Homo sapiens: one gene and its partners. The protein of the gene in region 1 purifies or fractionates together with the protein of each later gene. This does not show direct contact. Each region holds a gene or a part of one and is shown in the gene's direction. Other genes may lie near its edges.

Region 1 (3,654 bases):
TGGTATCCAAACCTGTGTCCCCAAGAACACCCTCAGGTTTGATGATTCACTAGGAAATCTCACAGGACTCAGCATCTAGTCTTATTCATGGCTATGATGTATTACAGTGAAAGGATATAGAGCAAAATCAGCAAGGAGAAAGGTGCATTAGGCAGAGAATGGGGTAAACCAGGGCCAGGCTTCTGGAGTCTTCTGCCAGTAGAATAACACAGGACACAATTAATTTTCCCAGCATGAATTATTGATAACACATGTGAAACATTGCCAACCAGGGAAGCTCATTAGAGACTCAGTGCCCAGGGCTTTTATTAGGGACTGATCATGTAGGCAATTCCCTTTCTGACACATACCCAAATTCTAGACTCCCAGTAGGAAAACAGGTGTTCAGCATAAACAGTGTTAGGCACAGTCAGTCACTATTATTAAGGGAGTAGGGAGTGGGAGGCTTCCCAAAATCTAAGTTCCCAGTCTCCAGACAAGGGCCAAACTAAGCAGGCCTTTCTAAGGATAAGCAGCCAGGCCTGCTGTGAACTCTTTTCTGCACAGCTTGGCATAACATGAATTTTTTTTTTAATTATACTTTAAGTTCTAGGGTACATGTGCACAACATGCAGGTTACATACGTAGACATGTGCCATGTTGGTTTGCTGCACCCATCAACTTGTCATTTACATTAGGTATTTCTCCTAATGCTATCTCTCCGCCAGCCCCCCACCCCCCAACAGGCCCCCGTGTGTTATGTTCCCCTCCCTGTGTCCATGTGTTCTCGTTGTTCAACTCCCACTTATGAGTGAGAACATGCGGTGTTTGGTTTTCTGTCCTTGTGATAGTTTGCTGAGAATGATGGTTTCCAGCTTCATCCCATGAACTCATCCTTTTTTATGGCTGCATAGTATTCCATGGTGTATATGTGCCACATTTTCTTTATCCAGTCTATTATCGATGGACATTTGAGTTGGTTCCAAGTCTTTGCTATTGTGAATAGTGCCGCAGTAAACATACATGTGCATGTGTCTTTATAGCAGCATGATTTATAACCCTTTGGGTATATACCCAGTCATGGGATGGCTGGGTCAAATGGTATTTCTAGTTCTAGATCGTTGAAGAATCTCCACACTGTCTTCCACAATGGTTGAACTAATTTACACTCCTAACAGTGTAAAAGCATTCCTATTTCTCCACATCCTCTCCAGCATCTGTTGTTTCCTGACTTTTTAATGATTGCCATTCTAACTGGTATGAGATGGTATCTCATTGTGGTTTTGATTTGCATTTCTCTGATGACCACTGATGATGAGCATTTTTTCATATGTCTGTTGGCTGCATAAATGTCTTCTTTTGGGAAGTGTCTGTTCATATCTTTTGCCCACTTTTTTGATGGGTTTTTTTTTCTTGTAAATTTGTTTCAGTTGTTTATAGATTCTGGATATTAGCCCTTTGTCAGATGGATAGATTGCAAAAATGTTCTCCCATTCTGTAGGCTGCCTGTTCACTTTCATGATAGTTTCTTTTGCTGTGCAGAAGCTCTTTAGTTTAATTAGATCCCATTTATCAATTTTGGCTTTGTTGCCATTGCTTTTGGTGTTTTGGTCATGAAATCTTTGCCCATGCCTATGTCCTGAATGGTATTGCCTAGGTTTTCTTCTAGAGTTTTTAGGTCTTACATTTAGATTTTTAATCCATCTTGAGTTAATTTTCATGTAAGGTGTAAGGAACGGATCCAGTTTCAGTTTTCTGCATATGGCTAGCCAGTTTTCCCAGCACCATTTATTAAATAGGGAATCCTTTTCCCATTGCTTGTTTTTGTCAGGTTTGTCAAAGATCAGATGGTTGTAGATGTGTGGTGTTATTTCTGAGGCCTCTGTTCTGTTCCATTGGTCTATATATCTGTTTTGGTACCAGTACCATGCTATTTTGGTTACTGTAGCTTTGTAGTATAGTTTGAAGTCAGGTAGCATGGTGCTTCCAGCTTTGTTCTTTTTGCTTAGGATTGTCTTGGCTATGTGGGCTCTTTTGGTTCCATATGAAATTTAAAGTAGTTTTTTCCAATTCTGTGAAGAAAGTCAGTGGTCGCTTGATGGTGATAGCATTGAATCTATAAATTACCTTGGGTAGTATGGCCATTTTCATGATACAGTGCTCTACACTTTCGGAGAAACTTCTCTAGTAACGAACTATAGAAATGATCCCTGAAAGTATAGTCTTGGCATAACATGAATTTTATAAAACTCAGTTTTACTGCATGAACTGAATTCCCCATGTACCTATATCTCTGCCAAATGGTTTCTAGGCTAGCTAGCTGTATATATCAATGAAATAATGCTACAGAAACCATATGAGAACATTACACATCTTTGATAGATTTCTGAAATAGTCATGCATCCTTTAACAACAGGGATATGTTCTGACTAATGCATTCTGAGGTGATTTCATCATTGTGCAAACATAGAGTGGACCACCGAGGCTCTGTGGTTATAGTCTGTTGTTCCTAGGCTACAAACCTGTCAACCTATTACTGTATTGAATACTACAGGCAATTGTAACACAATGGTATTCTTTTGATCTAAACATATATAAACACCAAGAAGGTAATGTGTTGTGCTGTGATGTCAAGATAGCTACATCATTAGGCAATAGCAATTTTTCAGCTCCATTTATAATTTTATGGGACTACCAAAATATATGCAGTCCCTAGATAACCCCAAATGGCATTATGTGGTGCATGAGTAGCTTTCTATCACTTGGATTTATTGTGTGATTTGGTTCAGATTGTTAAATGTATTGAAATTGATTTATTATTTTCAGAATACTATCCATTCAATTGAAATTTTTATAAGGGTCTAGATTCTAATGAAATTTTAAGCTTAAAAACTCAATCTCAAGTATTAGTAAAAAGCAATTTTAAAAAATCATTATTTAAAAATCAGCTCATAACAACATATTATTTATGTTCAGCATGTTCAAAAGAAAGCTGCAGAATGGAAAATCAAGATAGATATTATAGCAGGTAAGACAAATCTCAATCCTAATATCCAAAAGGGCCAACATGTATTCGCCCAACCAAAATTTTCATGCAGGTGCTGAGAAGATAAACTATGCTTTACAGTGTGGCAAAATGTGCATGATTGGTAATAGATTGGAAATGGAGTAAAAGCAGAATGAACACTTAGCCTGAGACTGTCCTAATTTATGCGATTTACTGAAAATTTCTAATAGCACTCAGGTATTTGGTCACTCCAGACTCAGGCAGAACACTGTATAGCAGCACAATGGCTAAAAACATGGGCTGGGGGCCAGGTGTGGTGGCTCACGCCTGTAATCCTAGCACTTTGGGAGGCCAAGGTGGGCAGATCACCTGAGGTTTGGAGCTCAAGACCAGCCTGGCCAACATGGTGAAACCCCATCTCTACTAAAAATATAAAAAATTAGCCAGGCATGGTGGCGCACACGTGTAATCTCAGCTACTTGGGAGACTGAGGCGGGAGAATCGCTTGAGTCCCAGAGGCAGAGGTTGCAGTGAGCCGAGATCGCACCACTGTTCTTCAGCCTGGATGACAGAGGAGACTCAGTCTCAAAAAAACAAAAACAAACAAATGAAAAAAAAAAGTGGGCCGGGCGCGGTAGCTCACGCCTGTAATCCCAGCACTTTGGGAG
Region 2 (3,654 bases), on another chromosome or scaffold:
TTTCTCTTGATTTATTGACCTTTCGTTTCCTTTTGTCTCATTAACTGATTTTTAAAACATCAGTAAGTCAGTGATTGGTTCCACAACTCTCATGCCCCTCTGCCCCCAAATGCAAACAGTATTTTTTTTTTTTTTTGAGACGGAGTCTCGCTCTGTTGCCCAGGCTGAAGTGCAGTGGCGCGATCTCTGCTCACTGCAAGCTCCGCCCCCCGGGTTCATGCCATTCTCCAGCCTCAGCCTCCTGAGTAGCTGGGACTACAGGTGCCCACCACCACGCCCGGCTGATGTTTCTGTATTTTTAGTAGAGACGGGGTTTCACAGTGTTCGCCAGGATGGTCTCGATCTCCTGACCTCATGATCCGCCCGCCTCGGTCTGCAAACAGTATTTTTAAGACTTACTGGCAAATAGCATCTTACCAGGCGAGATCTCTCCATGTGTTCTGTTTCATCAAAGAAATTAAATCAATAGTAAAATGAAGCAAGTACTTAACAAGGAAAATAATGCTGGTAATAGTAATAGCTAATGCTAATTGAGCATGCACTATGTGCCAGACTCGGTGCTCAGAACTTAACATAGCATTCTCTCAGTACTTACACAACTCCATGAAGTTTCTATGAGAAGGCTTATACTTGTTAAGTAATTCGTCCAAGGTCACCCAGTGAGGATATGGTACAGTTGGAATTGTATCTAGGCAGTTCTGACCCCAAGAGCCCAAGGCGCCCCTGGTCCTATCTCATAGTTGATGGGCCCATTGCCCTGGATCACAGACTTTCCACTACTCTTATAATGCCTTTTCTAGAACTCTCCTAATGTTTTAAACTTCCAGTCCTCCCTACAGTCTTTCTAAATAGATAATCTTCTTTTCTACTTGACTGAGCTCGCTGATGTCTAAAAAGAGCTCCCTGCCTTCTGTTTTGTCCCCCTCTCCCTACGCCATCTCATCTCTTTTCTCTTATTTCAGTGGAAAAGGTTCCCTTCCTTTTTCCCCCTTTCATTTCTTAGAGATAAACCTAGATTAATGGTTTTTACTAGGGAGAGATTTTGTAATCTAGGAAGCATTTGGCAATGTCTGGAGACTTTGATTGTGACTCTGGAGGGAGGATGCTACTGGAATGTAGTGCGTAGAAGCCGGGAATGCTGCTAAACATCCTGCAGTGTACAGGAGTAAGCCCCTCTAAACAGAGTTATGTGTAAATTGTATAAAATAGTGCTGAGCTTGACAAACTCTGATCTAGATGATGTCTCTCTTCTCTTTCTATTATGTCCCTTCTCCTTAGTCCTAGTCTAACCCCCAGACACCTTCACTGTCTTCTCCCTTGCTACTCACATTATGGTCCACAGACCAGCAGCATTCACATCCCCTAGGATTTAGACATGCAGAAAGTTGAGTGTGCTAGAGCCAGCTTGCTCTGCCTCTCCAGCTGATTTTGTACATCTCTTTCCAGCTCTGTGTTCAATGACCTCGTGTTGATAACTGTGCCAAGGTGGGAATATTTATACCAAGGAAACAAGCATACACTGCCAATCAGCATACCACTGCCTGTACCCCCACTCTAGACCTATTCAATCAGTTTCTGCCTTTTGACAAGATTCTTGGGTGATTCATTTGCATATTACATTTTGAATTTGCATTTTCCATTTTACCGTGCACTTGTCCTCTATCTTGAAACCAAATAACAACAACAAAAGTGTCTATTGCCCAGTCCAGCTGTTGTCTCCACCTTCCTCCTCTTGTTTGCTTTTGGAACAAAGTTTCTAACCCCACCTGTTTCATTTCTAAAACATTTTTCCAGTGACAATGTATTCAGACTCAATATACAAAACTTGGAAAAGACAGACTTGAGCAAGACTAACTCTTAGCTGACAGGAGATTGAGGAAGGTTGGTTCCCAGATTCTGCTACAGAGCTTAAGGTGGCAATAACAGCTTCTGCAAAAGCCAAATAATGAGATGGCCGTGTGGACCAGTCTGGGCTCCAGCAAATGGCTGATTGTTCAGAGGCCTGCAGAGGGACTGACTAGGCAGCAGCAGGTTAGGTTGAAAGGCAGTGAGTGGTTTTATGTAATCAGAATCTGCTCAGCAGCCTACTTTGCCAAGGCAGGATCTCTCCCTCTGTCACCCAGACTGGGGTGCAGCGATGTGATTATAGCTCACTTTGGCCTTGACCTCCTAGGCTCAAGCGATCCTCCCACCTCAGCCTCCTGAGTAGCTGGGACCACAGGCGTGCATCACCGCACTTGGCTGTTTTTTTAATTTTTTATAGAGACGAGGTCTTGCTATGTTGCCCAGGCTGGTCTTGAACTCCTGGGCTCAAGCAGTCCTCCTGCCTTGGCCTCCCAAAGTGTTGGGATTACAGGCATGAGCCACCACACCTGGCCCCCTCATACTTTTATTATTTTATGCTTTTATGATCCCTCATTACCACTTTTTTGCTGTTACTTTTTTCTTGTTTTGTTTTTTGAGACGGAGTTTCGCTCTTGTTGCCCAGGGTGGAGTGCATTGGCACGATCTTGGCTCACTGCATCCTCCGCCTCCTGGGTTCAAGTGATTCTCCTGCCTCAGCCTCCCGAGTGGCTGGGATTACAGGCATGCACCACCATGCCCAGCTAATTTTGTATTTTTAGTAGAGACAGGGTTTCTCCATGTTTGTCAGGTTGGTCTTGAACTCCTGACCCCAGGTGATCTGCCCACCTCAGCCTCCCAAAGTGCTGGGATTACAGGCGTGAACACCTGGCTCCAAATCTACATTTCTAATCCTGAGTTGCAAATGACTTCTATACTCTGTTTCCCAGTGCTTTTTGAACAGGTCTGCTTGAATATCAACCTCCTTGGCTATAAACGTTTGCTTCATACTTATTTTCCCAGGGTTGTTATACTAGGCATGGGAATGTACACTTGTATTACTCGTGTCTGCCATATGCTATGTACCACCCTAAGCACTTTTCCATACATTTTTATTTACAAAAACCCAGCAAGGTGTGAACTATTACCCTATTACTGATGAGGAAACTGAGATGTCTTGTTTGTTTTTTGAGATAGGGTTTCACTCTGTCACCCAAGCTGGAGTGTGGTGACACCGTCAAGGCTCACTGCAGCCTTGACCACCCAGACCCAAGCAATCCTCAGACACTTGAGTAGCTGGGACCACAGGTATGCACCACCACACCTGGCTACTTTTGTTTTATTTTATTTTTTGAGACGGACCGCAGTCTGTTGCCCAGGATGGAGTACAGTGGCGTGAGATCAGCTCACTGTAACCCCCGCCTTCCGGGTTCTATTGATTCTTCTGCCTCTGCCTCCCAAGTAGCTGGGATTACAGGCACATGCCACCACGCCTAATTTTTGTATTTTTAGTAGAGACGGGGTTTCACCATGTTGGCCAGGCTGGTCTTGAACACCTGACCTCCGGTGATCCGTCTGCCTTGGCCTCCCAAAGTGCTGGGATTATAGGCGTGAGCCACCGAACCCAGCCTGTGGTTAATTTTAAAAGTTTTTTTAGCAATGGGGTCTCTCTGTGTTGCCCAGGCTGGTCTCAAACTTATGAACCAAGTCATCCTGCCTCAGCCTCCAAAAGTGCTGGGATTACAGGCATGAGCCACCGTGCCTGACCTCAGATGTTAGTATGCCTTATAAGGGCCTCATATGAGATTTATT
Region 3 (3,654 bases), about 49 Mb from region 1:
AAAAAGATTTGGCAGTACCTAAACACATATATTCTATGACCCAGTAATTCCTTTTCTGAGCATTCATTTTCAGAGAAATGAATAAGTTATATTTAAATGAAAAAATAAATTATAAGTAAGAATGAAAAGCACTTTAGTTAAGCCCCCAGTCATGTTTAGCATTAATTTTGAAAATGTATACTTTTCCATTAGATCAAACTAAGTTATTATTTATTTATTTATTTTATTTATTTTGAGACAGAGTCTCACTCTGTTGCTGAGGCTGGAGTGCAATGGCACAATCTTGGCTCACTGCAACCTCTGCCTCCTGGGTTCAAGCGATTCTCGTGCCTCAGCCTGCAAGTAGCTGCGATTACAGGCGCATACCACCATGCCTGGCTAATTTTTGTGTTTTTAGTAGAGACAGTGTTCCACTATATTGGCCAGGCTGGTCTCAAACTACTGACCTCAAGTGATCTGCCTGCCTCGGCCTCCCAAAGTGCTTGGATTACAGGCATGAGCCACTGCGCCTGGCCTATTATTATAATGTCATAATGCAGTAGTTCTCAAAGTAGAGTCCCCAGACCAGCAGCATCAACGTGATCTAGTAACTTGTTAGAAATGGACATTTTTGTGCCTTCTTTTTTTGGACACATTTGTGTCCAAACCTACTGAATCAGAAACCTTGGGGTTAGGGTGTAGTAATATGTAGTTTAACAAGCCCTCCAGGTGATTCTGAAACATAAAGTGGAGAACTCCTACTATACTGAACATACTTTAGGAATTCCTGTTGCCTTCTAAAGCACTATTTCTTTAATTTTCAGCTTCTCCAATTTGGGAAATACCTGCTATATGAATGCTATTCTACAATCTCTATTTTCACTCCAGTCATTTGCAAATGACTTGCTTAAACAAGGTATCCCATGGAAGAAAATTCCACTCAATGCACTTATCAGGTAATCATTATGTACTGTACTTACTGAGTAACCTTTTACTTCATTGATTATAGAATAATGGAATTTTAGACACTCAAAAATTTTCTGTGCCATTATTAGTAATTATTCTTTAAAATATCACGCCATGTCATGTAAAACGTGCTAACTTTGTGTTTTTTGTTTTACTAGACGCTTTGCACACTTGCTTGTTAAAAAAGATATCTGTAATTCAGAGACCAAAAAGGATTTACTCAAGAAGGTTAAAAATGCCATTTCAGCTACAGCAGAGAGATTCTCTGGTTATATGCAGAATGTGAGTATTAATTGTTTTAAAACGTTTCAGAGGCCTGACACGGTGGCTCACGTCTGTAATTCCAGCACTTTGGGAGGCCTAGGTGGGCAGGTCACCTGAGGTCACTGAGGTCAGGAGTTTGAGACCAGCCTGGCCAACATGGCGAAACCCTGTGTCTACTAAAAATACAAAAATTAGCCAGGCGTGGTGGCATGCGCCTGTAATCCCAGCTTCTCGGGAGCCTGAGGCAGGAGAATTGCTTGAACCCGGGAGGCAGAGGTTGTAGTGAGCCAAGATCATACCACTGCACTATAGCCTGGGTGACAGAGCAAGACTCCATCTCAAAAAATAAATAAATAAATATTTATAAAAATAAATAAAATAGGCCAGGTGCGGTGGCTCACGCCTATAATCCCAGCACTTTGGGAGGCCACGGTGGGTGGATCATGAGGTCAGGAGTTTGAGACCAGCCTGGCCAACATGGTGAAACCCTGTCTCTACTAAAGATTAAAAAAAATTAGCCGGGCATGGTGGCACATGCCTGTAATCCCAGCTACTCAGGAAGCTGAGGCCGGAGAATCTCTTGAACCTGGGAGGCAGAGGTTGCAGTGAGCTGAGATCGCACCATTGCACTCCAACCTGGGCTACAGGGCAAGACTCTGTCTCAAAAAAATAAAAATAAAACAAATAAATAACGTGTAAGAAATCATGGAAATTGACATGATTTTAGTGTGTTTCTTGATTTTTATTTTAAAACGAGATTTGTGTATGTGTGTTCATTATAGATTGAAAAACCTGAGGAGAGGCTGGGTGCGGTAGCTCATGCCTGTAATCCCAGCACTTTGAGAGGCCGAGGCGGGTGGATCATCTGAGGTCAGGAGTTCCAGACCAGCCTGACTGATGAGGTGAAACCCCATCTCTACTAAAAATACAAAAAAATTAGCCAGGCGTGATGTCGCATGTCTGTAATCCCAGCTACTTGGGAGGCTGATGCAGGATAATCGGTTGAACCCTGGAGGCAGAGGTTGCAGTGAGCCGAGATTGTGCCATTGTACTCCAGCCTGTGTGACAAGAGCGAAAATCTGTCTCAAAGAAAGAAAGAAAGAAAGAAAAACCTAAGGAGCTGTAGTAAGATTAAATGTGACTCTTCAAATATAGATTTGATTTACCAGTGCAAGGACCTGGGCTGTGTTACCTGCGAAAATTACCTCTTTTAACAAAGTGAGGAGTTATTCATTGATTCATGTCAGTGCAACTGATATAATTATTAAGAATATATAATCTGTCATTTGTTTTTATTCACAAAATATGCAGCTCCCCAAATTCTTATAAGAATAAACCTGACATTGTTCACATATGTCATTGACTTTCAAGGGTTTTCACTGTATAAATTATAATGTTAATAAGCTATTATTTTTTGTTTGTTTTGTTTTTTGTTGTTGGTTTTTTTTTCTTTTCTTTTGAGACGGAATCTTGCTCTGTCACCCAAACTGGAATATAATGGTGCGATCTTGGCTCACTGTAACCTCTGCCTCCCAGGTTCAAGAAATTTTTCTGCCTCAGCCTCCCAAGTAGCTGGGATTACAGGGACTGCCACCACACCTGGCTAATTTTTGTATTTTTAATAAAGATGGCATTTCACCATGTTGGCCGGGCTGGTCTCGAACTCCTGACCTCAAGTGATCCGCCTGCCTCAGCCTTCCAGAGTGCTGGAATTACAGGTATGAGGCACAACACCCAGCCTCAGTAAGCTATTGTGACAAGAAATGTTTTTATCTGATTAAGGATATTGTTGTCTTATTAGGATGCTCATGAATTTTTAAGTCAGTGTTTGGACCAGCTGAAAGAAGATATGGAAAAATTAAATAAAACTTGGAAGACTGAACCTGTTTCTGGAGAAGAAAATTCACCAGATATTTCAGCTACCAGAGCATACACTTGCCCTGTTATTACTAATTTGGAGTTTGAGGTTCAGCACTCCATCATTTGTAAAGCGTAAGTAGTGTCTAAGAAATGATTTCCCTTTTTACTTCTTTATGGCAAGTGATTAAAATTCTTCTATGACATACCAAATGCCATGAATTCTTTTCTGTTTTTAAGACAGGGTCTCACACAGTTGCCTAGGCTCTTGGGTGCAGTGGCACAACCCCAGCTTATTGCAGCCTGGATCTCCTGGGATCAAGTGATCCTCCTACCTCAGCCTCCCGAGTAATGAATTTTTATCTCATCTTCCTTTCTACGTCATAGGGGAAATATAAACCAACAGATTATATCAAACCTTTTTTTCAGAGTCTTTTTCTATAGAAATGCTTGGGCTGGGCACAGTGGCTCATGCCTGTAATCCCAACAATTTGGGAGGATGAGGTGGGCAGATGGTTTGAGCCCAGGAGTTCAAGACCAGCCTGGGCAACATGGGGAAACCCCATCTCTACAAAATATATAAAAATT

Evidence for each region.
Region 2: the proteins of METTL5 (region 1) and USP28 purify together in Homo sapiens (affinity purification with mass spectrometry, with the first as the bait; one study listed by BioGRID). This does not show direct contact.
Region 3: the proteins of METTL5 (region 1) and USP37 purify together in Homo sapiens (affinity purification with mass spectrometry, with the first as the bait; one study listed by BioGRID). This does not show direct contact.

The regions. Positions count from the first base shown.
Region 1 is NC_000002.12:169,814,830-169,818,483, reverse strand, and holds part of METTL5 (rRNA N(6)-adenosine-methyltransferase METTL5), read left to right. Parts: intron 1-2,105; exon of another isoform or gene 2,106-2,205; intron 2,206-2,955; coding exon 2,956-3,007; intron 3,008-3,654. UniProt on the Homo sapiens protein: Catalytic subunit of a heterodimer with TRMT112, which specifically methylates the 6th position of adenine in position 1832 of 18S rRNA.
Region 2 is NC_000011.10:113,868,969-113,872,622, reverse strand, and holds part of USP28 (ubiquitin carboxyl-terminal hydrolase 28), read left to right. Parts: intron 1-3,654. UniProt on the Homo sapiens protein: Deubiquitinase involved in DNA damage response checkpoint and MYC proto-oncogene stability. Involved in DNA damage induced apoptosis by specifically deubiquitinating proteins of the DNA damage pathway such as CLSPN.
Region 3 is NC_000002.12:218,495,307-218,498,960, reverse strand, and holds part of USP37 (ubiquitin carboxyl-terminal hydrolase 37), read left to right. Parts: intron 1-803; coding exon 804-935; intron 936-1,103; coding exon 1,104-1,227; intron 1,228-3,010; coding exon 3,011-3,201; intron 3,202-3,654. UniProt on the Homo sapiens protein: Deubiquitinase that plays a role in different processes including cell cycle regulation, DNA replication or DNA damage response.